Homo sapiens: one gene and its partners. The protein of the gene in region 7 purifies or fractionates together with the protein of the main gene of each other region. This does not show direct contact. Each region holds a gene or a part of one and is shown on either strand. Other genes may lie near its edges. The genes, in order: GRHL1, SMARCA5, CERK, CEP135, BAZ2A, PCDHGA9 and BEND3.

Region 1 (3,500 bases), on a different chromosome or scaffold from region 7:
CTAGGCCTCTCTTCTGCAGGAGACCAGTGCCCTCATCTTGTCCTGCAAATCCTAAACTTCAGCATCTTACCAAAGCTCCATCTTTTAATGCTTCAAAGGCAATTGCTTCTTCTCTCTGCAAAAATTACCTCAAGCAGCTAATCTCAGCTGTGCATCAGGAAGAATACTGATTATTTCACAATGAAATGTGAACGCCTCATGGCCTTTAACCTGTCCAGAGACCTCTGACTCTTAACTACCCAAACAAATCTAATTTTGTGGAAGGACAATAAAAGGAATGAAATACGTCTACACAGCAGACAAATCCCACTAAGGGCCTGTTTCTGAGACATTTCTGCTTTTCAAAAAGCAACTTCCTTCTCTTCCACCACTTTGAAAACGAACAAATTTTCACAAGTTCCAAAACTTCCGAAAGTTTCCATGACAATGGCAGACATATGTTTATGGTGATGAATGGAGTGCACACAGGGCCAGTGTAAGATAGGTCCTAGCTTCGTCAGTGTTTTTCCCAAAGTGGAATGTAAGCCAAAGCATTCACAATTCAACCCAAAACATCCTCAAACTATCATCATTTCCAAACGGAGAAGCAGAAGCTACAGGTAAGATTCAGATGTTGACAGATTTTCAGTTTTACTCATCCTGGCATGGCCAAAAGGGTACATTAGAGATCACTAAAAGGGGAGGGGAGGAAATGCCACATAGCTCCAATAAACCCTTATGTTTGTGAGGGAGAAAGAACTGGAAATCATATTAACAAATACCACATAAATATGTACAATTATTATGTGCCAAGTATAAATCTTACAATTAAAAAAAGAAATCAACAAATGCATCCTAAATGAGAACAAGAAAGTGGGCAAAGAAAGTAGATATTTTCAGAAAACAGTAAAAAAAAAAACCAACTATACAGGATTCTGCATGTACACTTGTTCACTCTTGCTGCCCTGAGGCATTAATTACTTTAAGAATAAAAACAGAAAACATCAAGTTGGCCAGGGAAAGCAAAAAACCTCGATACTTAATTAGAACACATGCTTGAAGTTGCTGCCTGATATCAGCTTCAAAAAGACAGCAGCCTCATTAAGAAATGGCACAACACCCTTCTGGCGGCAGGCAAAGGCTTAAAATCACGTCAGTGCTGGGGGTCTGAAAGGGGAAATGAAACTGAGTTTACCTACATCAATTAGCAATGCTATTAAGGCTACTTAAGCCACTCCTCCAACAATATTTCTAATACAAATATGCTGCAGGCCTTCAGAATAAAACAAGCCATTATCCCTACCCGTCATCTTGGCTTTCATTACTCCCACCCCAAAGAGTGACACATCAAACAAACAAAGCGCCCTGCCCATGCGCTGGGCCTTTCGGCCAAGATCTCCAAGCCTATGACAAGCGCTTATTAATCCTGACCACACCCAACGAAGAAGAGCTGGCCACTCTAACCTCGTGACTCTCCTGGGGGATCAAGGGGAAAGGACTGAGCTAGTGAACTGAGGGACTAACCCAAGGTCATGGATAAGTTGGAAAAGGGAACTCAGGACTTATGGGCTCTTTATCGCCTCCTCCACAATTTCTCAGTGAGGCCCCAATGGCAAACAGCAAGTAACACTCCAGTTTGCTTTAAGAATAAAAGCATCCTGGGGCACAAGGCCAATACTTTTCATAGGCTGTTCGTAGTAGCCAGTGGACTGAGTCCTATTATGATATTTAATTTCAAAACAACTGTAACAACAATTATATAAAATGGAAAGTTTCTCTATTTATTGCTTAGCCAAGCAACAAACTCCGGACTATGCAGCCACCTGACAATTGTATGTGACTGAGGTGGTTGGCAGGAAAACCCTTCTAAAGCCACAATCACCTAAAGCTTCCTCACTGCCTGGTGGGCCCAACTGCCTAGAGTCTGCAGCCTGAAAGGCACATGTTTGTCTTGGACATGATGACAACGATAAGAAAGAAAAGCAATTATAATACAAGCAGAACATGGCTCTCAAGACCCAGTCACATGATTTTCAAAAGCATTCTGGGGCAGGATAAAATGAAACCCTAATAGTCAGCACCTAATACAGTGTCTTATTCTAAAAGTTACTAAAATTCTTATTGAATAAATAAAAGAAAAAGTAAAAAACAGAGACTGAGAAAGGACAAGAAGATGAACATCACTTCTTTCTACCAGGTCTCTGAGAGAATGCTATACCTAATATTGTAAGGAAAACTAAAGATCAGTCTTCTGTTAACAACTGTCTGAAAAATCACCTATGTTTCTATTGAGTTTTTTTTTTCTTTTTTTTGGGGGGGACAGGGTCTCACTCTGTTGCCTAGGCTGGAGTGCAGTGGCGTGATCTCAGCTCACTGTAACCCCCGTCTCCCGGGTTCAAGCGATTCTCCTGCCTCAACCTCCAGAGTAGCTGGGATTAGAAGCGTGTGCCACCACGCCTGGCTACTTTTTGTATTTTTAGTAGAGACAGGGTTTCACCATGTTGGCCAGGCTGGTCTCAAACTCCTGGCCTCAAGTGACCCACCCGCCGCAGCCTCCCAAAGTGCTGGGATTACAAGTGTGAGCCACCACTTCTGGCCTCTATTCAGTTTCTTGAGCTCCCAGTTTTTAAAGTAATCCAAAGAAAGAAAGAAATACAGGAACTCTAATAATTGAGTGGAGAAGGATCACACTCACAGGGAAGAAGGCAGGGGCAAGGCAGAAAGGACTTAGGAATATGCTGAATTTTTCTTCAAGGGCACAAAAATTCCCATTAGAGTCGCCCACAAGGAGTAACTCTAGCCAATTAGAGTTACTCCAACTGAACTGGAGGCAACTCTTCAATGGGAAAAGCCCAAGACAGAAGAATCTTAACACAGAGTCATATTTACAAGGTGATGATATGAAACAGAGTACTACTAATAATCACTTATATTTAAGAGCCTTTCTCAAAGCCACTCCAACAGTTTGATGGGCATTGTTTCATTACTCCTTACACCTCCTTCAATAGAGGGAGGAGACAGATATCACCTCCACTGTGCAAATGAGGAAATGAGGCAAAGCAAATGAGGAGTCAGACTCAAGGCTGAACAGGCAGGAGTGGCAGAGTGCAACTTAATCTCAATGTTTCACACACTGGACTCTGTGCAAAGGATGGCAACAAAAATGATCTGTTTTGGAGGAGGGGAGAATAAAAAGGGAAGAGGATAGTTTCATAACACCTGAGAATGAAACACATAAAACTGTGAAAAAAAAAAAAATCAGTTGTCAAATCATTAAACTCCTCCCATTTCTCAAATGGCTGGACATAAGGCGCCCAGACCTCACCACCCACCTTTGCTTCATCGTTGATGTCCCATGTGAAGGAAATGGCGTTATACGCAATCTCCTCGATGTTACTGATAGTGTTGAAGCTTTCTTTATAGTCAGCTACAGGAAGCGGTGGAAGAGAAAATGAAAACTCATGAGTCTTAGTTTCAACATGGGATCCCAGCAGTTCAAAATAAGATCTAGTTTTTAGCAT
Region 2 (3,500 bases), on a different chromosome or scaffold from region 7:
TCTCTTCTTCCCACAAGGATGTTGTCAACTGATCGAAATTTTAACTTATTTTGTTAAATATCATAATAAATCACCAAATTACTATATATGACTCAACCCGTCTTTAAAAACTCTAATTCTGTGACTATTACCACTACACACATTCATCTAAAAATGTGGCTCCTTAAATTTCCAACCAACTCACATTTCAAAATATCTTTTAAAAACAAGAAAATAACTTCTAATGAGAGCACAACCAATGATTTTATACAACCACTCCCAAAAGGGAGAGAAACAAACTACAGTCTTACAGCTTTCTACCATTTCTAATGTCTTCTTCCCAGTATGATTTTTTTTTTTTAAGATGGTCTTGCTTTGTTGCCCAGGCTGGAGTGCAGTGGCGCCATCTCGGCTCACTGCAACCTCCACCTCCCAGATTCCAGCGATTCTCCTGCCTCAGCCTACCAAGTAGCTGGGACTACAGGCCATGCGTGCCACCACACCCAGCTAATTTTTTGAGTTTTTAGTAGAAACGGGGTTTCACTGTGTTAGCCAGGATGGTCTCGATCTCCTGACCTCATGATCCACCCGCCTCGGCCTCCCAAAGTGCTGTTTTTTATCCACCAAGACAATGCTACATTTGTAAATACTAATATTTGCGAAGATCCCGTCTCATTTATCCTTCTTCCAGCTATACCCATACCCAAGCCTGAATTCAAATTATTTTAGCCTCAAAAATGTAATGAAATACTAGAAACTTACTCTTTGTTCTTTATCTCCTATCAAACAAACAGATCTAAGTGTTGGTACCCATCTCTTGAATTCACTCATCCAGTTGTGTAATGTAGACTTAGGAACCAAAACCATATGAGGCCCAGGAATGTTTCTATAATGTTTCATGTACCCAAGAAGAGAAATTGTTTGAAGAGTCTTTCCTAGGCCCTGAAAGATTTCAAAATAACCATGAAGCAGTGAAAAATGAAAATATTATTTCACAATTATACCTCCCAACATATAGAAATGTTCAAAAGAAATGCTACATATTTATAACAGTTAATAAATGGCAAAAACTTAACATATATCAAAGTTTGTAAGTGTTATGTCATATAATTTTCACAAGTCTCTAAAGGAGGTATTATTATCACCCGCATAAGGCCCCGTTTAAGTGACATTCCCAAAGTCATCTAGCAGAGCTAGCATTGAAACACATTTCTTTTGACTTCATACTTTCTCCAACCAATTAAACGTTTTAGCATTATAGCAATAAGGAAACTTTTTTAAACATTCATTACATAACTAGTAGTTAACAAAAGATAAATGTTTTCTAAGAATTGTACAAGCTACCACCTGGAAAAAACATTTATCAATTATAAACAATTAATGACCTCACTTTTGTTTTACAAAACTGGAAGCAAATAAATCATTGTACTATAAAAGTCATCCAAAAACATGTTTCTCAAATGTATTCTTTTTAAATTTATCATATTTTCAGCGATGGAAATTTCTCACAATTAAAATACAGATCACACTTATGCAACTAAGGCAAGCTGCTTATACTAGTTTCTGAGAGGATCCATTTGCTAACAGTTGTAGACTGTAAGAAACTTTTATCAACGTATAAGATATTTTCAATACAAAACATACCCTTCAAAAAAAACTACCAACACATACCATTTCATCTGCAAGGATACCATTGATGCCATTCTCATACAAAGAAATGAGCCAGTTTAATCCTCGGACCTGATAATCTCTCAGTTTACCCCATTTTACATCTAAGAACAAAAGAAAAGCACAATAGGCATTTTAAGACAAGAAATACAAGGCAATCTCTTCATCTAAGCCTACACATATCTACTGACTTTATTTTCATTACTAACGGATTCTTGAATAGGAACTCTGCAAGTTCCAAAATACTAGAGGTAGCTGCCATGGTCTGAAGTGGAAAAGCTGGACATGGAAGATAATCAAGTGCGGGAAACATGACTGCGGGCATCAGAGTACCCACTCCAACAACTCAGTTCTTACGTTACCCATATACTGGTCTGAGAGACTCTTTGGCCTCTCGTCTTTTTAATGAAAAACCAAGTGTTCCTAACCAAGTATTTTCAGCTTTCATAAAGACCAGATACAGGTTATCTGGGGATTTTATTTTCTTTCTAGTAAAAAAAAAAAAAAAAGAAATAGGAAATTCCTAAGTTACTTGTCCAATATATCTTATACATTCCAATGCACTCTCTTTCAGGGTATACTACTTATTTTGCTCCCCAGAATAATTACCAAATATACATAACGGTCACCTGATTTTTCTTTTTTAATATGTACACAGTGTAGCCCTCCATCTCCTTTTGAAAAACACTTGAGGATAAAAAGCTAACCAATAAACAAATACATTTCACAAAAAATTAAATTAATATAAAAACATCAGAAGTAAGCAAATGTGTTCATGAAGTACCTTTTTTAAAATAAATTAGTTTTCTTATGTGGGACAAATATAAAGCAAAACGATCCTTAGATTTACATATACTTCAGGGCAATAACAAACACAATGACATTTTATATAACTTTGAAATACAGCACTACTATCCTGTAATATGCTCTCATCTCCATCAAAATCTGAAGTTTATTTCATAACCAATAAACATCTAAGACTACTAAAAATTTGCTTCACAAATAGTAGCCAACACAAATCCAAAACATTAACCAAAGGAGATCTCAAAGGGCAATTTTTTAAAAAAATCAAGTGTGTTTAACATACACGATGGAGAGTCTTCAAATCGAGTGCAAACATTGGTTGCTTTGGAGCTTTCTGTTAATAGCTCTTCATCCTCCTCTTGCTCTGTTCTACGGTGTCGGTAACTGTTAAGATGAAAATAAAATAACCTGATTTGAGTTTTGGCTTTAATTATCAGCTACTGTTTAAACATCATAGTCAAGTGGCTGACCAAGATTCCACAAAATTAAATTTTTAACAGGCATCAACCAGTGGACAGTAGAAAATATGAGTACATTTAAATCTGCAATGTTTTAAATAATTATTTAAAATATACATTAGTTATTAAAATACACCAGTACGATACATTAACCAGAACCCAATAAACTCAAATATGATAGTCAAATTTCAAGAACTATGTAGTCAGAAAATCTCATTATTTGAATTTTAAAGTGTACCTTTTTAAAAATCTTTTTGCCAAGGAAAAAAAAGTTCCAGAAACCACATGTTTAAAATTGTAACTTCGAGCAAAAGCTGCAGCATAAGGACTCAGAAATTTAAGCAGTGACCACGGATTCATCAAAAAAATTTTTAAATACACATCTAAATTCTACATCCTAAGAGAATCAGATATACTACCCCCTTAAAAACTGATTTTCTAAAGTTTTAATACTGCCAATTAATCTCTAAAGGGCTTGGTTCAGTAAAACTATTAATACTTACTCCCCAATTCTGACACTTTCAACAAATATTTTCATCTTATTTAGAAAAAGGCACGTTATGCCTCTGTTGAGACCGCTGAATCTAATTT
Region 3 (3,500 bases), on a different chromosome or scaffold from region 7:
CAGTTTGGGATTCTTCTTTTCCCCAAAATTCCTAGAGATTTCCCAGAACTACTATTTTTAATGCCCATATCATGGTCCATTATGTGGGCATGCCATATTTATTTAGCCTCTCACTTGTAGATGTTCAGGCTCTTTCCAATTTTTGCTCTTAGGATAGCATTGTTGTACATAAATCTCTCTGCATACATCTACATTTTTAAGGTAAATTCCTAGAAATGAAATTAGTCATAGGAGATTAACATTTTAAAATCTCTGCCGTGTACAGCCATATTGCTTTCGAAAGAGATTCTATTAACTTACATTCTTTTTTTTTTTTTTCGTTTTTGAGGCAGAGTTTCGCTCTTGTTGCCCAGGCTGGAGTGCAATGGCGTGACCTCGGCAGCTTCGGCCTCCCAAGTCCAAATGATTCTCCTGCCTCAACCTCCCGAGTAGCTGGGATTATAGGTGCCCAACACCACGCCCAGCTAATTTTTGTGTTTTTAGTAGAGACAGGATTTCGCCATGTTGGCCAGGCTGGTCTCGAACTCCTGACCTCAGGTGATCCACGCGACCCGCCTCAGCCTCCCAAAGTGCTGGGATTACAGGCATGAGCCACCGCGCCCGGCCAGTTTACATTCTTTCTTATAGTATATTATTTACTGTCTTTGTCAACATGTTTGGTATTATCAGTATAAAATTTCTCTGCTAATTTGACATGTGAAAGTCTCTAATATTTTAAGAAATATGTTTATTGGCTAGCTGGCTTCTTGGAATTGATTTTTATGTCTTTGGCCCATTTTCTTTTGTTGGCCATAATTTCAGTCATTTGTTCTCTTATCCAACAAATAATAGGCAATTCATATTTATATTCATATTTTTGCAAATATTTTTGCTAATTTTGAAATTGTCTTTTAATTTTGCTTATGGCATTAATTCTTCCCAGTAGAAGTTTTCAAATTCATGTACTCAAGTCTGTCCAGCTCTTCTGTGCTGTTCTTTATGCTTAAAATTTCACTCTTCATCTTGAGTTTAGCTATTCCCCTGTAGTTAATTGCCTTGTCATTGGTTGGCTTTTTGTTTTCTTCTCTCTGTTCCATCTGGAGTCGGTGAGCAATGTGTTATAAATTGCAGCGGATATTTATTGAAATCATTATTCATTCCACAAACATTATTGAGGGTCCTCCAGGTCCCAGCACTCTGCTGGTGCTAAGGTTAGAAAGGGAAATAAAAGGAGCCCCTGCCCCCAGGTGCTGACAGGGAGACCCCTTTGCTCCCCTCCTAATGCGGGAGTGTTCTGTTCATGGGCTCCAGGAAGCAGGGGGCTCCTCCATGCACATCTCCCCAACTCCACCCGATGGCAGCTCCTCCATGTACTTCTTCCCACCACCTCCACCCGACAGCAGCTTGGCAGGAAGACAGTCGTCTTCACTTTTCAGCAGGGATGGGGCTGGCACCTTATTGCACCCACCCTAGCCAAGGGATCAGCCTCGCCTCTTGAGGGCACGCCTTCTCCCCAAACCCAGGGACATGCCGTGCAGGAGGCTGGGAGGCCTGGCCAGTGAGGGCTGCTCTTCCTGCGGCTGAGCTGTCTGTCTGAGTGATCTGTCTGTCTAACACACAGATGCTACACTGCCCATTCAAGGATGCCCTGTCCTCGAAACCACAGCCCCGCTGGGAAGGCTGCCCCGGTGCAAGGTGTAGGCTACGGGGAAGGGCAAAGAGCCTTCCCATGGGAGCCGGGCCCAAAGCAGGTGGCCTGAGTGGTGGGTGGTGGGCAGAGATCCCAGCCCTGGAGACTGGTCGCGCCTGCACAGACAGACCCACTGGGGAATGGGCAGGCACCTTGATGCTGTCATGCTTGAGGGAGGCCCCTCAGGCTGCACCCCCTAGTCGACTCACACCGCTCCTCTACCGGCGGACCTTCCCCCTGCAACCCTCTCTTCCCGGGTGATGAGAGCTCTTGGGCTGCCGTAGGCTATAGAGATGTCCAGGAAACCTGAGCCCTGTCCTCTGCCTTCCCTCTGGGCTGCAGTGACATGTCTGTCTCCATGCCTGCACCTCTCATTCTGCCACCTCAGTGTTGGTTCCCTGTGGGTTACCCCCGGCATAGGACAGCACACCCTGAAACCAACCCGTCCTTTCTCCCTTCAGCCACTGTCCCCTTTCTCCATCTCCTCTCCTTAGATTGTCTCATGCCCCATTTTGTCCGCATTTATTCCGTCCCCTCTGCTCTTGCCTTGGGTCCTCAAGACCACCCACACGGCTGGTGATTTGCTGCCTGAGCTAGAGTCGTGCTCTCGGCTGAGATTTCTGACGGGACAGAGCAAGGCTGCACAGCCAGCTTAGCAAAGGAGAAACGTCCCCGCGCAGACTGCTGTGCCTCTCCCGCAGTGCGGGTCACCTGGAGTGCACCCTCTCTGCTCCCACAAATGCAGCAGCACAGGTGTACTCTTCCCGCCCCGCAAACTTGAGTCCTGAGACCCAGAGTGTAGTGTTTTTGAGGGGGTACAGGCATGCAGGCATTCTCTGCCTAGCCACCCAAATTCCAGACTCACAGAAGGAAAGCCAGTATTTGCCATCAATCTCATTATTTGTACACGTGGTCTAGGCCAACTGGCACAGAGGCACGACCTTATCACTTAGGGACATTTCAGGAGCCGCACTTCTAGATGCCTGCCAAGGGCCAGGTGTGCAGGCTGCCCCTCCTGAAGCTGGAAGCCTCAGGCCTGCTGCGCTCAGAGGGCCGCACCTGCAGGAGCCCTGACCGGCTGTGTTCCTCCTGCAGCATCGTCTGTGTCGGCGGAGATGGTATGTTCAGCGAGGTGCTGCACGGTCTGATTGGGAGGACGCAGAGGAGCGCCGGGGTCGACCAGAACCACCCCCGGGCTGTGCTGGTCCCCAGTAGCCTCCGGATTGGAATCATTCCCGCAGGTATGGAGCCGGCCTGGCATTCTCTGTTCTCTTCGTTCCCGTCCTTAGGAATTGTTCTGCACAAGTAGCCACCTCGGACACTTAATAACCCAATTATACTCAGTTTAGTTCGTACAGATTTCCTAACATTAGGGCCACTCTTGGGGGGATATCATTGAGAGTATGACCCCAATGAAATAGACACTCGTGGAAAGGAAAGTTGCCCGACTCCCCCAAAGGCTGCTTCACGCAAGGCAGGAGAACCCCACCGCTGGGGGTGCAGTCCTGGAGTGGGGAACCCCCGGTGCCCGGGAGCAGGTGGGTAGGTTGGCAGGGGGTGCGTTCTGGAAGAAGTGGCTTCTGGACCTGAAGGAACCGGGAGTTAGGGGTGGGTGTGGGCAGGAATCGGGCTGGGGAGTTGGGAGGAGACTGAGTGGGAAAGGTGGGGGCGGAACCAAGGGCAGGACCTAGCCGAGCCCGGGAACAGCTGGGCTGTGTCCTGAAGTGCTGGTTCGGCTTGGTCCATTCAACATCCTTCTAGGAACCACCTTGTTCTTTGAAAAATCACAGTGTTAAGCTAAGTCAAGCTGAGGGCCTGAGCGTGGTGTGTT
Region 4 (3,500 bases), on a different chromosome or scaffold from region 7:
TAAATCTGAATTTTCCAGAAGGCTACCTACCTGAAGAAAAACAAAAAATAATTGCTTCATATTAAAATAATTTTTTCTTCTTATTGTGAAACAACAATCATAGCTATAATAAGATAATGATGTTTCATTCTTTTCTCTCAGGACTTTAATTTTTGGAAGTGAATAAAACTTGTTTTAGAAGACGAGATGACTACAGCTGTAGAGAGAAAGTATATTAATATTAGGAAAAGGCTGGATCAGCTGGGATACCGCCAGACTCTGACAGTGGAGTGTTTACCTTTGGTAGAAAAACTTTTCAGGTAAAGACAAAAATACAGTTTTCAACCTTTATGATCCCTAACCACTTACCTCATTTCTGATTGAACTTCATGCTTTGGTAAAGAAAAGGGTAGCTTTCCGGAAAGGCTTTCAATCATGAAGCTTATCTGTTTTTTCCCTGTCCTCAATCCAGGCCTTCCACACGGCAGAACTCTAAAGGCCACCACTCACGCTGTACTGTTCAAAGTCAACATTTCTGGGGGTTTTCTCTGTGAATGGAATTACAGTTTTTTGGGTTTCTGATATAATTGAGAGACACTTTTCCCTTAAGTTCTTTTTTTTTCCCCCCCTTAAGTTCTATGTCTGCTTCACTGGTCTTCAAATACAGTCATGGATAGTTTCATGACAGGGATACGTTCTGAGAAACATGTCATCATTAGGTGATTTTTTCGTTGTACCAACATCATAGGGTGTGCTTACACAAACCTAGATGGTGTCGCCTACCACAAACCTAGGCTATATGGTCTGTATCCTATGGCTCCTAGGCTACAAACCTGTATAGCATGTTACTATACTGAATACTGTAGGTAATTGTTAACACAGTGGTGCCTATTTGTATATCTGAACATATCTAAACATAGAAAAGGTATTGTGTTGTGCTACAGTGTTACAATGGCCAGATCTCATGAGGCAATAGGAATTTTTCAGCTGCCCCCATTATAAATCTTACAGGACTACTCTCCTTCCTATATGTGGTCTGTCGTTGACCAAAATGTCATCATGTGGTGCATGACTGTATTTTAAGCCTCTTTAGAAATATGTTTTTAGTTATTAGAAAGTTAATGAAATATTTCCTGGTATTTAAATTTTCTGTTCTTTTAGCGACTTAGTTCATACAACTGAGAGCCTTCGGCAATCAAAATTATCTGCTGTGAAAGCTGAAAAAGAAAGTGCCAATTTTGATTTTGTTTTGGAACCCTATAAACTTGAAAATGCAAGATTGAGTAGAGAAAATAATGAATTATACCTAGAGTTAATGAAACTGAGAGAACATTCAGACCAACACGTTAAAGGTAAGTGAAAATTTGATAATTTTTAAAATGCAATGTCTTTGTCCTTTTTATTTTAGAAGGAAAAGCTAACGTCTAATTTTAAAACTATTGATTAGAAAATATAGTAGTCCTACAGCTGGATGGTGTGTGCCTATAGTCCCAGCTACTCGGGAGTTTAAGGTGGGAGGATTGCTTGAGCCCAGGAGTTTGAGACCAGCCTAGGCAACATAGTGAGAACTTGTTTCAAAAAAAAAGAAAAGAAAAGAAAATATGGTACTCCTTCTGCTAATAGCCCCTGAAATACTATAGGGTATGTTGAAGAGTTCCTGAGAAGGAAAATAAATGTGCATTATATAGCTATGATAATCACTATATGTGGATTAAATTTTTAGAATTAAAAATTTAATTAAAATTTTAGAATTAAAATTGCCATAGGGAATATTAAATGCTGGATTTGAAGAAATGTTCTTGAAACAACTTTTGTTTTTCCCTTACTGAAAATAAAAGTAGTAAATAAGGTGAAAACCATGTATCATGCTGACTGTTTTATAGTCAGTCTTTGAGCTGTCAAGTAGAATAGGATGATTTCAAAGGTACTAGGGAAAAGATAATTATATGGTTATCTTTGTATGAATTATTCTTATATTCAGTAGAAAACTTTATCTAATCCATGGTATGAATTCATAATCCTTTAGCTTCAGACCCAATTTACTGGATCAAAAGCTATGATGTACGTTAGGCTAATACAGTAGCTGAAAAATGAAGATTCTCTTTTGTGCTTAGTGAGTTATTTGCAGTTTTGTTAATAATAGTAGAAGAAGGAATAAGTGTCAACTAAAGCATGCATAAGAAGCAGGTGGAGACTTTTAAATTGATATGACTTTTTGTATTTTGTGAAATGGAAAAACTTCATTGGATTTCTTGATCTTTAAAACGGTCTTTGAATCTTTTTCATTTTAAGAGTTGAAAACTTCATTGAAGAAATGTGCACGTGAAACAGCTGATCTGAAATTTCTGAATAACCAATATGCTCATAAACTCAAACTGTTGGAGAAAGAGAGCAAAGCTAAGAATGAAAGAATTCAACAACTTCAAGAAAAGAATTTGCATGCTGTAGTACAAACTCCAGGTAAATCGATTCCTTCTCGAGACAAATTATACACATTTAATCTTTTAACGATATTAACACCATTGACTAAAATAGGACTTTGGATTGGATTTTCATGCTTAGACTTTAGTGTTTGAAAATATATATTGAATAGACCGTAAACTTCTTGATTTATTTCTAATGATCCGGGTAGTAATTTATACGTGTGCTTAGAAATGTATGTAGTATTAGTTACTTAGATACTAGTCTAACTTTAATGCCCAGAGCTTTCTCTAATCAATATTTTAAATTCTTTTTTCTATTATTATTATCATTATTATTTTAGTTGTAAAAGTAATCCATACTCATTAAAGAATTTGGAAATTATGTACTTTCTTAGTTTATTTTACTATTTTTAGCATTATGCTTAGTAGTTATAGAGCAAGAAAAGGAAATGATGGGTCCAGGTGCAGTGGCTCACACCTGTAATCCCACCACTTTGGGAGGCTGAAGTGGGCAGATCATTTGAGGCCGCTTCAAGACCTGTGTGGGAACGTGATGAAACCCCACCTCTACCAAAAATACAAAAATTAGCTGGGCATGGTGGCGCAAGCCTATAGTTCCAGCTACTTGGGAGGCTGAGGTGGGAGGATTGCTTGAGCCTGGGAGGCGGAGGTTGCAGTGAGCTGAGATTGCACCACTGCACTCCAGCTTGGGTGATAGAGTGAGACCCTGTCTCAAAAAAAAAAAAAGAAATGATGGGCCACATCCAGAGTTGGTGATTGTTCAGCAGGTATGGGTTGGTGGTAGAATCTACAATATTAGTGACAAAATCATTAAGATAGCTGAACCATGGGATCAAGATTATGAAATTAAGTGAGTAACAGGGGGCTGCTGGATTATGAGGCTAGGTCAAGACAGATTAAAGAGCATGATGAGTACCAAAAGTAATTTGTTTGCTATGAAGATTGCAGTCAGAGTGGAATTTTGGAGTTGAAGAACTAGAAGCCAGCAGAGTTCTGAGTGATGACAAAGGCCAAAGTGTATCATCTTATTGTGTGCCTGAAGTTGAGGGGAGAGGAGACTCCTGAGAGTGGACAGAT
Region 5 (4,231 bases), on a different chromosome or scaffold from region 7:
AATGGTTGGAGGACACCAGCATAGGAGCAGAGTTTAGAACTTAAGAGGACAAGAAAGCTGCTCAGTGGCTGGCGTATAGCTGTGAAGGTAACCAAACACCAAAGAGGGAGTCTGTCATTTTTATAAGGCTGGAAGCGAATGTTCCTTTTCTACCTTAACATACAGTTTAGGGGGTTGCACCAAGACAAAGTTTCCAGGCTGGAGGGTAATACATATCCAGCGCGAGTGAAGTCCCCACTCCAACATATACCCTTTTTGGGTGGGTAAACACCTCTTTGCATGTGGACAGAAAATGTTTATACTTAAACAGACATATTTTGCATATTTTTATCTGGAGACTTCTTCTAGTTTTATACTCTTCCCACATCTATGCCAATGCCACCATTCTAAAACTTACACTCCTTTTCTACCCCTGGTCTTTTCCTTGTCCTTCCCTACAACTTGGTAGAGGTCCATTTTGTCTTACTTCACACTTTTTTTTTTTTAAATAAAACACAAAAGTCTACGTCTTGGTGTCTTATCCGTGAGTGGGAAGTGGTAAGCTGGTGATGGTCCCATATTTGCTATGACAGGAACACAGAGGTGGCAGCTTAGGAAGCTGGGGCCACATCTCACAAGGCAGGACCTGGATGCACTGAATCCCCCTTTGCTCCAGCAACTCAGCCAGACATTTAGGCAGGAGCACTAATGACCCTTTCCATCCACACAGAGGGTATGGAACAGGAGCCCCTGTTGTTCCCTTGCCTGTGGTCTCTTAAGCCAGTCATACCTATCCCAACGCCGTCTCCCCCTCAGGTGTGTAGAAGGGAAGATGAATACACAGAGTCTTTTGAATCTCTATCAAATGTGGTTTTTTTTATTCAACAACTGACAAGCACTTTTCTACAGCTGCACTTGTGGAACATCACATGGCAAAAACAGGAGTTTTTTCGCTAGACTTTTTTTTTCTTTTTAACCTTATTAAAAATGAGATTGGTCCTAAAAATATAGAAAGAAATAAATTTAAATTCACAAAAAACTGTACATTATCAAAAAGTCACTAAAACACCACATTTGGTTATATAAAAAGTCCCTTTTGCTGTAAAAGGAACACAGAAACTTGTTGGTGTTGATGGTGTGGTTTCTTCCTGTCAACCAGACTGATGGGAGGGAAGCAAAAGGGCAGGGGGTGGGTTGTCTTTTTATTTTAAACCTGCTTTCCCTACCAAATACTCTTGTCATGAAGAGAAAATCCACCTAGCTCAAGGGGGCAGTGAAGATGAGGAAAGAAAAGCAAGAAATGGCCCCTTTGATCATGCCCTATCCCTACCACCCCCAACCCCGCTCCAGCCCCCACTTCTTCAAACTGAGGCTAGGACCCCACCCCGCCATATGAGTGCCTGGTCCCTAGGGAAAGAGATGGAGCTGGGAGAGGAACACAAAGCAGGAACCATGGAGATTTCACTCCCCCATCCACCTCACAATTTCACTCCCCCATCCACCTCACAATGAAATTAATCTAGCACATCTTATACCAGGGGAAAATTGCCAGGGGGAAAAAGCAGAGCCCCCAACTCTAACAGTTTCAACTGTCTAACACAAAGTTTGTTACAGCGCAGTTATTTAGATAAAATATAAATATTTATGCATAATATAAAGTCAATTCAAATATTCTTCAATCCACCTCTTAAAAGCAAAAAAAAATCTCAAATAAAATTAAAAGTTTTGAGGTTTATCTGACAGAAAAGGCGACTTTAGAAATAGGCTATGAGGGAGAAGGGGCATAAAGGAATAAAGGGGCTGCCCCAGGACCTACACTGCCCCTACCCCCTTCAGTGGCTCTTCAGTGCTGCCAGAATACAAGGAATGCTCCACCTCACCTGGCACCCCCACCCCCCAATGGAACATTTCTTGGATGCCTCAGCTCTCTGCTTGGGCCAGCCAGCAGCCACCTCCCCAGTGCAAGTACCCGTAATCTCTGAAGGGAGGGGCTCTGCTGAGCAGGAAAAGCAGGGGGCCAAGTGCCCATGGCTATAGCTGGGAGTCAGCAGCTTTCCTCTCGTGTTGGGGGCTTAACTTGGACATAGTCACATGTAGGGCAGTGATGGACCCAGAACCCCTCCTCCCTACTCTCCTGTGCTCCAGGGTCTCTGCTGCTGGGGAAGGGGTCCTGGGGTATGAAGTAAATGAAGAAAAGCACAACTAAATGGGATTAGGAAATGATCCAGTTCTACCACTCTCCCGTAGAAGCTTAAGATTCAAAGCTACCGAGAAGAGAGGGAGTTCCTGCTGAAAGATTGCACAGTCTGAAGAGGCTGGAACAAAAATGACCAGGAGAGAGACACAGCCTTGTCTCCAGAGAAATTGTTCCTGTGGTTTCCCAAAGACAAAAAAGTGATGGTTTTAAACAATGGGAAAAATGGGAATGAAAACAGGTACTTGGGGAAACTGAATGGATCCTATCAAACAATACAGGGTCACAAGCACGCACACACACACACACACACAGCGCGCGCTCTGAGGCTGACACACACACACACACACACAGCGCGCTCTGAGGCCGACACACACACACACACACACACACACACACACACACAGCGCTCTCTCTGAGGCCGGCCCCATTGCTACCTGGCCTCCATCTTAGGGTGCACCCAAACTCAGCAGTAGTTGTCCCTGAGGAGTTCCCAAGAGGGTTTGGGAAGGAGGTGGGGAAGGAGGCTGGAAGGCCCAGGAAGCCTCCCTGCCCTCTCCCCAGCTACTGAGTTTCAGAAAAGGCTGGAAACTCAGCATGTGAGGAGCATCCAACATCATACAGGGGATAGCTATCGGCAGGAAGATGGGGACAGAAGACAGGGACCTCTGAACATTTTTTTTTCCTTTGAAGGGAAAAGATTTGGGAGAAGAGAAAAGGAGGGAGGAACCCGTACACGATAGTTTTACATTATTGGATGAGAGAAAATCTGAAAACTGGGGGGTGGGAGGTGGGAAAAGAAAGACAGCGAGAAGCAGGGAAGGGACTGAACATGGAAGCAGCATGTCCAGGGCCCGGTGTCCGGCGCGACACACTTGGGAGTTAAGTCCACTTTACTGGCCGTCACTGCGGGTCCGCACACAGTACAGAGTGTTTCTTGGTTTCACACATTCACTAGAACTATTGCTATTGTTAAATAACCCCAGAATGCTGGGGCACGTACAGGGGAGGAGAGGAAGCAGGGAGGAGGAAGTAGGGACGACTTTCCCCCTCCCCATTTTTAATTAGCAAATAAAACAGAAAAGAAAAATTATTTTTTTCTTTCTTTTTTTGGCTTTTAGTCCAGAAGGACCTCATCTCTGCACCTCTTACTTGAGGAGCAAGAGGAGGGAAGGGAGAAAGGGATGTAGGAATAAGAGGATGTGGGGCACTGCCAAGGGCAAGGTCAAAAATCAGGGTTGTATCTGACTTGAGTCTGGACCCAGGGCAGCATCAGCAGGTGAAAATGGCAGGTTTTTGTTTGGAAGGTGGGGGGAGATGCCACAAGGTGACTCCCCACCTCCCTTGCCTCACAGATTGGCCTGTTTTCCCTGATAAAACTCCTCCCAGCGGCTCTCGAAGAAGCGGCGCATGATGTGCCCAGCCTTGCCTACTTCAGAGTCATCCTCGTTGAAAGTCTGGCAGTTGTCAAATACCAGGAGGGCATCAGCCGCAAACTCCTCTGAGCTGGTGTACCTGGACAGGGCAGGGGCAAAACTGTGAGCTGGGTAGGAGTTGCAGCAGTAGCAAAGACCGGGCGGTTCACCCACATCTACTTACCCTCCCCTGAGCAGCCGCTCCCGCATGGTGGAAAAATCCATAGGATTTTTGATGATGCGCCGGTACCCACTCACCAAACGTGGGTTCACAGGCTCTAGGAAAGGCCAGGCTGCATCATGGGACTCCATCTCCATCAGGATAATCCTATCATTAGAGGGACAATGATGGCTCCATCTCAGGAAGCAAATATACTGACCCCTCCCAGCCCTTTCCTCTGGCAGAGGTAGAGCCAACTGTCCCCCCAGGATTCACTCAACTCACTCGCAAAATGTGAGATCACTGTGGTGGTTCCGCATAGAGAGTCGCCGCCGCTTGGAGGGGGAGAGCCCTTCTTCCGAGTACCGAGGCCCTGCTGCTGGGCTTTCTCGGCCCCTCAACAGTACCCGGCGTCGGCGGCCATCACCCTCTGAGAAGTTCAGCGAATAACCACTTTTCCGCTTCTGGCCACGCTTTGGGAAA
Region 6 (3,500 bases), on a different chromosome or scaffold from region 7:
TCTCCAAAATCTGATCAGAGAGAGAAGTGATGATTATTTCTGGGCTGTTGTCGTTTTCATCAAGGATTTCTATGATTACTTTACACTGGGTAGAGAGACCACCTCCGTCCTTCGCTTCCACTTCCATGGTGTACCTTTCTACATCTTCAAAATCAAATGACTGGTTATTCTTAATCATACCTGTTTTCTCATCCAATGAGAACATATGTTTTGTGCTCTGGGCAGTGCTTCGGAAGTAGTAGTTTATCTCAGCATTGACCCCCTCATCCTGGTCAGTGGCTGTCACTTGCAACACAGGGGACCCAGGGGGCAGATTTTCACTAAGACTAATTCTATATTCGTCTCTGCTGAAAACCGGGGGGTTATCATTGGTATCCTTGACAGAAATTTCTATGTGAGCGGTGGCACTTCTTGGTGGGTCCCCTCCGTCCAAGGCAGTCAATATCAAGCTATGAGATCTCTGTTCTTCCCGGTCTAGGAGTTTCTCCAGAGATAACTCTGGGTATTTGCCACCATCGGAATTAACTCTAACCATTAATGAAAAATAAGGATTAGAGTTTATCTTATAATCTTTAATTGAGTTTATGTTTATATCAGGATCCGTGGCAGGGTCAAGCGATAGTCGTGTACCAGCGGATGCAGATTCGAAAATTTCTAAATGTATTTCCTTTTTATCAAATTGAGGGGCGTGGTCATTAACATCCTCAATCACCACAATGACATGAAAAATATTTAAAGGATTTTCCACCACAGCTTCCAATTGCAACTCACATCTTCTTCTCTCTTTGCATATTTGCTCACGGTCTATTCGGTTCTTCACAAGTAAGTCCCCGCTCTCCGCGTCTACGCTGAAGTGCAGCTTCTCCGCGCTCACTCGCAGCTTGCGAGCCGACACATCCAGGACACTGAGCCCTAGATCCTTAGCGAGGTTCCCCACCACCGAGCCCTTGGCCAGCTCCTCCGGAATCGAGTAGCGGATCGGCTCACTCAGGGTGGGGTAGAACAAAGGCAGCAGCAAAGGAAATAGCACCTGCCGCGGGCCGGCCCGGCGCCTCTGCGCGCAGCTCCCTCCCATCGTTCGCTCGGGTTCTCGCTGGGTCCCCGCTTTTCCAGTTGGAGAAAGTGCACTCTACCGCGCTAAAAGAGCATTCGGCCCAGGACAGGAGGAGTCCCGGGTCTCGGAGCTGGCAATCCGCTGTGCTGGGAAAGGTCTGCGCAGCCGGGAGGCTCTGTGTGGGAGCTGGTTTTCTTCTTTCTGTTGTTGGCTGCGCAGGGAATCCCAGGCCAGAGGCTGACGGATCCCCGGCGTCAGCGCTTGCTCTGCACTGGCCGACAGCGGCGCCCAGAGGCTCCGTGCGGGACAGCAGCCCGGTTTTTCATTTTGAATTCGGTCTCCGAAATGTATATATTCTTCGAAAATGCAGGTGTACATCCCCCTCAAATTTTGCTCTCACCATAATATTATAGTAGATATTTCTATGCTTTGTGTTTTAAATAAATCTATTATGCACAATTTCAAACTTATACAACAGTAGGGAGTATATATAGTGAACCTTCACATAGCCATCACCCCACCTTCAACAATGATCACCACAAAGCCAATCTTTGTTTAATATATACTGCGCTCCCCCATTATTTTTAAGTAATACGAGATATAGAATGTCAACCAATGCTTCTTTTTAAGATGAGACATTAAGGTCAAGAATTTTATCTTTCAGCTTATGTTCTACAATCTGTTACCAATGCACAATAAGTTAAGTCCTACATAGCCTAAGAAAAACAGAAATAAAGATTTTCCATACTCCATTCAGTCATCTGTCTGGTGAGCCTCGTGTTCTGGTTTTAAGGGCAAGAGACATTTTTGTGGTATCGAATAGTAACTACCTACCATGACATACAAGCCTTCATGGATATCTGTTATGTTTTCCCCAAATTAACATACATTTCAATATTTATAAATACTAAGTATGAAGGCTACTCCTCAGAACAGAAATTGTAACAATTTTCTTGTTGCATGGTTAAAAATATGAGCCTGAAGTATGCTTTATTTTTTTTGCTACCCACTTAAGGGGGAAAACGTGTTTGAAATAATTAAAATGTCTGTATGTCATAAAGGATTCCCAGACACTTCAGCTTTTTTTTCTTAAAAATAAAGCAACTGAAACCCAAATAATTACAAACAAATAAAACAATTCTTCATTTCCACAGAAATGCCAGCAGTCATCAGTGTATCTATGGATCACATGTTTAGCATAGAATTTTGAGTCAACTTCAAAGCTTATTTTCAAATGTCTTGTGAAATGTTATTTACTATTTGAAACAACACTATGTTTAAAATAACATTAAATAATACATTATTCTCTTCCTTATAGCTAAAAACAGTAAAATAGTTTTAGAATCTTCCCAGCAGTTCCTGAGAATATTTTCTTAAATTATATCTGATATGCAAGTTCATTTCTAGACTCAAAAGTTGGAGAATTGAGCCAGAAATAATATATAAGTGAGAGAAATATTTTTAATTCCTTGTTTTGTCATTTCACAGTGTCCAGTCTTAGAAACTTCTCTTGAGCAAGCATATACTATAGAAAAGAAGAATGTCCTACTATTCTCCATAATTTAACATTAAAGCATTAGGAAATTAAGACCTTTGAAGATATGAGAATAAAAGATGTGACAACTTTCACCATTAAAGGGAAAAAATTGGTTTACTAGGGTTTGGAAGTGGATAACTGAAGTTTGAATCTTCGTCAGAAAATATCTGTAAACACAAACAGACTTTACACACTTGTGATCTGAAAAATATAACCTCAAAGAGGTGTTTTCCTGTCATAGAAATGGAAGAATAGAAGCAATAAATCTGGGCTTTCAGCTGTTTCTCTAAGAAGAATACATTTACCTTTTTATCAGTTTACCCTTACAAACATAGTATGACCTGAATAAATGATCGTAGGAGTAAGAATTTGCTGGGTGAGGTGGTTCACACCTCACCCAGTGCTTTGGGAAACTGAAGCAGGAAGATCGTTTGAGACCAGTCTGGGCAACATAGCTTGCTAGCCCTCCCACCTCAGTCCTAGCTACTGTGAAGGCTGAGGTGGGAGGATTGCATAAGCCCAGGAGATTGAGACTGCAGTAAGCTTTACCCACACCACTGCATTCCACCCTGGACAACAGAATGACACCCCCATCTCTTAAAAAAAAAAAAAAAGGAGTAAGAATTTTATGATATGAGTCCACTGCAACCAATGAAGCAACCCTACCCAAAAAGCCCACATCAATGCAGGCTGAGAGCTACCCCATGAAGTATGGTTTACGTTGACAGCAGGTTAATTATTATGAGAACATGAAAGTTATATCAGCAAATATAACTAATAAATGCCTCCTTTCAGTGTTGGAGCAACAATTAGGCCCAGTGAAAAGTGATGAGAAACACACTGATATCAACTTATACTACCTTAAGTACAGACAGTTAAAGAGAAAGCTAACTATAATAGAAAGTTAAG
Region 7 (2,917 bases):
CGCATCAAGAAGCAGGTGAGCCCCACTGAGATGGTGGCCAAATTCCAGCCGCCCCCTGAGTACCAGCTCACAGCCGCAGAGCTCAAGCAGATCGTGGACCAGAGCCTGTCAGGGGGGGACCTGGCCTGCCGCTTGCTGGTGCAGCTCTTCCCCGAGCTCTTCAGCGACGTGGACTTCTCCCGGGGCTGCAGTGCCTGTGGCTTTGCGGCCAAGCGCAAGCTGGAGTCGCTGCACCTGCAGCTCATCCGCAACTATGTGGAGGTCTACTACCCCTCGGTGAAGGACACGGCTGTGTGGCAGGCCGAGTGCCTGCCCCAGCTGAACGACTTCTTCAGCCGCTTCTGGGCCCAGCGGGAAATGGAGGACAGCCAGCCCAGCGGCCAGGTCGCCAGCTTCTTTGAGGCAGAGCAGGTGGACCCCGGCCACTTCCTGGACAACAAAGACCAGGAGGAGGCCCTGTCTCTTGACCGGAGCAGCACCATCGCCTCAGACCACGTGGTGGACACGCAGGACCTCACTGAGTTCCTGGACGAAGCCTCCTCACCAGGCGAGTTTGCCGTCTTCCTCCTCCACCGGCTCTTCCCCGAGCTCTTCGACCACCGCAAGCTGGGTGAACAGTACAGCTGCTACGGGGACGGTGGAAAGCAGGAGCTGGACCCGCAGCGGCTGCAGATCATCCGCAACTACACGGAGATCTACTTCCCTGACATGCAGGAGGAGGAGGCCTGGCTGCAGCAGTGTGCCCAGCGCATCAACGACGAGCTCGAGGGCCTGGGGCTGGACGCGGGCAGTGAAGGCGACCCCCCGCGTGATGACTGCTACGACTCCTCCAGTCTGCCCGACGACATCTCAGTGGTCAAGGTGGAGGACAGCTTCGAGGGCGAGCGGCCGGGTCGCCGCTCCAAGAAGATCTGGCTGGTGCCCATCGACTTCGACAAGTTAGAGATCCCCCAGCCTGACTTCGAGGTGCCCGGTGCCGACTGCCTGCTCAGCAAGGAGCAGCTACGCAGCATCTACGAGAGCAGCCTGTCCATCGGCAACTTCGCCTCGCGCCTGCTGGTGCACCTGTTCCCCGAGCTCTTCACGCACGAGAACCTGCGCAAGCAGTACAACTGCAGCGGCTCCCTGGGCAAGAAGCAGCTGGACCCCTCCCGCATCAAGCTCATCCGCCACTACGTGCAGCTGCTCTACCCACGCGCCAAAAACGACCGCGTCTGGACCCTGGAGTTCGTGGGCAAACTGGATGAGCGCTGCCGGCGCCGGGACACGGAGCAAAGGCGCTCCTACCAGCAGCAGCGCAAGGTCCACGTGCCGGGCCCTGAGTGCAGAGACTTGACCAGCTATGCAATCAACCCCGAGAGGTTCCGGGAGGAGTTTGAGGGGCCCCCACTGCCCCCCGAGAGGAGCAGCAAGGACTTTTGCAAGATCCCCTTGGACGAGCTGGTGGTCCCCTCGCCTGACTTCCCGGTGCCTTCTCCCTACCTGCTGTCTGACAAGGAGGTGCGTGAGATCGTGCAGCAGAGCCTCTCCGTGGGCAACTTTGCCGCCCGGCTCCTCGTCCGCCTGTTTCCCGAACTCTTCACCGCCGAGAACCTCCGGCTGCAGTACAACCATTCCGGGGCTTGCAACAAGAAGCAACTGGACCCCACGCGGCTGCGGCTCATCCGCCACTACGTGGAAGCCGTCTACCCGGTGGAGAAGATGGAGGAGGTGTGGCACTACGAATGTATCCCCAGCATCGATGAGAGGTGCCGCCGCCCCAACAGGAAAAAATGCGACATCCTCAAGAAAGCAAAGAAAGTGGAGAAGTGAAGGCCCGTGACCTGCCCAGAGATTCGGGGTCACCAGAGGCTGAGCGATGGGCACCCTTGGGACTGAGCAATACTTGGGAGCACGCCTATGGCATCCACAGACAGGCACCTTATGTCCGTGGGGAGTGGCTTACTACATTTGCACACGTAAACACCCACCCAACCGCAAGAAAGAAGCCTTGAGTTTGGTCTCTTGTACTTACAACTTCTGTCCTATGTGCCCCGGCGGGGCAGCCTGAGTGTGGGGAGAGCAAGCTGTGAGGGCAGGGACCAGAGGTTAGGGGTCCTCTCTCCCTGGTTGTGCCCTCCCCAGCCCCTCACAGCTTATAATGCAAACCCAGCAACTCTCTTGCCCCTCTTCCCATATTTTACATCTTCCATTTTGACCCATTTTTTTTTAATTAAAAAGAAACCCTTAAAAAAAATCATTGGGCTCTTTGGGGGCCATTTTACTTAGAAAAAAATCTCTTTAAAAGTGCCATGTTCGTGCACAGTGGCTAATCATAGCTTCAGGTGGCATGGATACTGATTTTACTGACCTTGTTTTTTACATCTGATTTTGGAAGAGTCAAGATGCCCCTTGGATGGCAGTAGAGGGGATGGAATAGTGCGAAGTCCTTTACGACCACATGCAAGTTTTCCCTTCTGCTCTGGTGCCAGGGAAGGCTTCCGTTCAGCTTGGCCTGTCCTTCAGGCGCGTTGGTAGAATGTTGTGTCACTCTTTAGGCGAGAACACTGGATGATGATGATATGAATGTAGACAGCCGTGGAAACACGTTCGCAGTGTCTCCATCTGAGCCGTGTCCTTCCGCTGCCCCCATTCCTTCTCCATACATGGTTGCTGGTTGGAGGGAGTGGACATGTTTCCTTGGAAAACAGTGCAGGGGCTTTTGGCTTCTTGTTAGATTTAAGGGTGGGCCTCTTTGAGCTCACCATGAACTGTTTACTTTTCCGTGTGTGTATTTGTACAAAATCCAGGTTCCGGGAGCTTTGTGGTGACTTCCCCAGACCTCAGTGTTAGCTACTCCAGGCAGTACTACATCCTCATTCCTCAGGGCGGGCCCAGGTCTGGGCCCCTCTTGGGGATACCATGCATTGGAAGGACA

What was found.
Region 1: the proteins of BEND3 (region 7) and GRHL1 purify together in Homo sapiens (co-immunoprecipitation; one large-scale study listed by IntAct). This does not show direct contact.
Region 2: the proteins of BEND3 (region 7) and SMARCA5 purify together in Homo sapiens (affinity purification with western blotting; one study listed by BioGRID). This does not show direct contact.
Region 3: the proteins of BEND3 (region 7) and CERK purify together in Homo sapiens (affinity purification with mass spectrometry; one large-scale study listed by BioGRID and IntAct). This does not show direct contact.
Region 4: the proteins of BEND3 (region 7) and CEP135 purify together in Homo sapiens (co-immunoprecipitation; one large-scale study listed by IntAct). This does not show direct contact.
Region 5: the proteins of BEND3 (region 7) and BAZ2A purify together in Homo sapiens (affinity purification with western blotting; one study listed by BioGRID). This does not show direct contact.
Region 6: the proteins of BEND3 (region 7) and PCDHGA9 purify together in Homo sapiens (co-immunoprecipitation; one large-scale study listed by IntAct). This does not show direct contact.

Annotation. Positions count from the first base shown.
Region 1 is NC_000002.12:9,965,193-9,968,692, reverse strand, and holds part of GRHL1 (grainyhead-like protein 1 homolog), read right to left. Parts: intron 3,407-3,500; coding exon 3,312-3,406; intron 1-3,311. UniProt on the Homo sapiens protein: Transcription factor involved in epithelial development. Binds directly to the consensus DNA sequence 5'-AACCGGTT-3'.
Region 2 is NC_000004.12:143,523,702-143,527,201, reverse strand, and holds part of SMARCA5 (SWI/SNF-related matrix-associated actin-dependent regulator of chromatin subfamily A member 5), read right to left. Parts: intron 2,836-3,500; coding exon 2,735-2,835; intron 1,752-2,734; coding exon 1,651-1,751; intron 922-1,650; coding exon 742-921; intron 1-741. UniProt on the Homo sapiens protein: ATPase that possesses intrinsic ATP-dependent nucleosome-remodeling activity.
Region 3 is NC_000022.11:46,707,253-46,710,752, reverse strand, and holds part of CERK (ceramide kinase), read left to right. Parts: intron 1-2,764; coding exon 2,765-2,910; intron 2,911-3,500. UniProt on the Homo sapiens protein: Catalyzes specifically the phosphorylation of ceramide to form ceramide 1-phosphate.
Region 4 is NC_000004.12:55,951,945-55,955,444, forward strand, and holds part of CEP135 (centrosomal protein of 135 kDa), read left to right. Parts: intron 1-141; 5' UTR 142-186; coding exon 187-299; intron 300-446; exon of another isoform or gene 447-527; intron 528-1,140; coding exon 1,141-1,331; intron 1,332-2,271; coding exon 2,272-2,439; intron 2,440-3,500. UniProt on the Homo sapiens protein: Centrosomal microtubule-binding protein involved in centriole biogenesis. Acts as a scaffolding protein during early centriole biogenesis.
Region 5 is NC_000012.12:56,595,096-56,599,326, forward strand, and holds the end of BAZ2A (bromodomain adjacent to zinc finger domain protein 2A), read right to left. Parts: coding exon 4,034-4,231; intron 3,917-4,033; coding exon 3,773-3,916; intron 3,689-3,772; coding exon 3,523-3,688; 3' UTR 501-3,522; downstream 1-500. UniProt on the Homo sapiens protein: Regulatory subunit of the ATP-dependent NoRC-1 and NoRC-5 ISWI chromatin remodeling complexes, which form ordered nucleosome arrays on chromatin and facilitate access to DNA during DNA-templated processes such as DNA replication, transcription, and repair.
Region 6 is NC_000005.10:141,405,778-141,409,277, reverse strand, and holds part of PCDHGA9 (protocadherin gamma-A9 isoform 1 precursor), read right to left. Parts: intron 1,258-3,500; exon of another isoform or gene 1,076-1,257; coding exon of another isoform or gene 1-1,075. Other genes in the region: PCDHGB6 (protocadherin gamma-B6 isoform 1 precursor), read right to left, coding at 1-1,075. UniProt on the Homo sapiens protein: Potential calcium-dependent cell-adhesion protein. May be involved in the establishment and maintenance of specific neuronal connections in the brain.
Region 7 is NC_000006.12:107,067,599-107,070,515, reverse strand, and holds part of BEND3 (BEN domain-containing protein 3), read left to right. Parts: coding exon 1-1,812; 3' UTR 1,813-2,917. UniProt on the Homo sapiens protein: Transcriptional repressor which associates with the NoRC (nucleolar remodeling complex) complex and plays a key role in repressing rDNA transcription.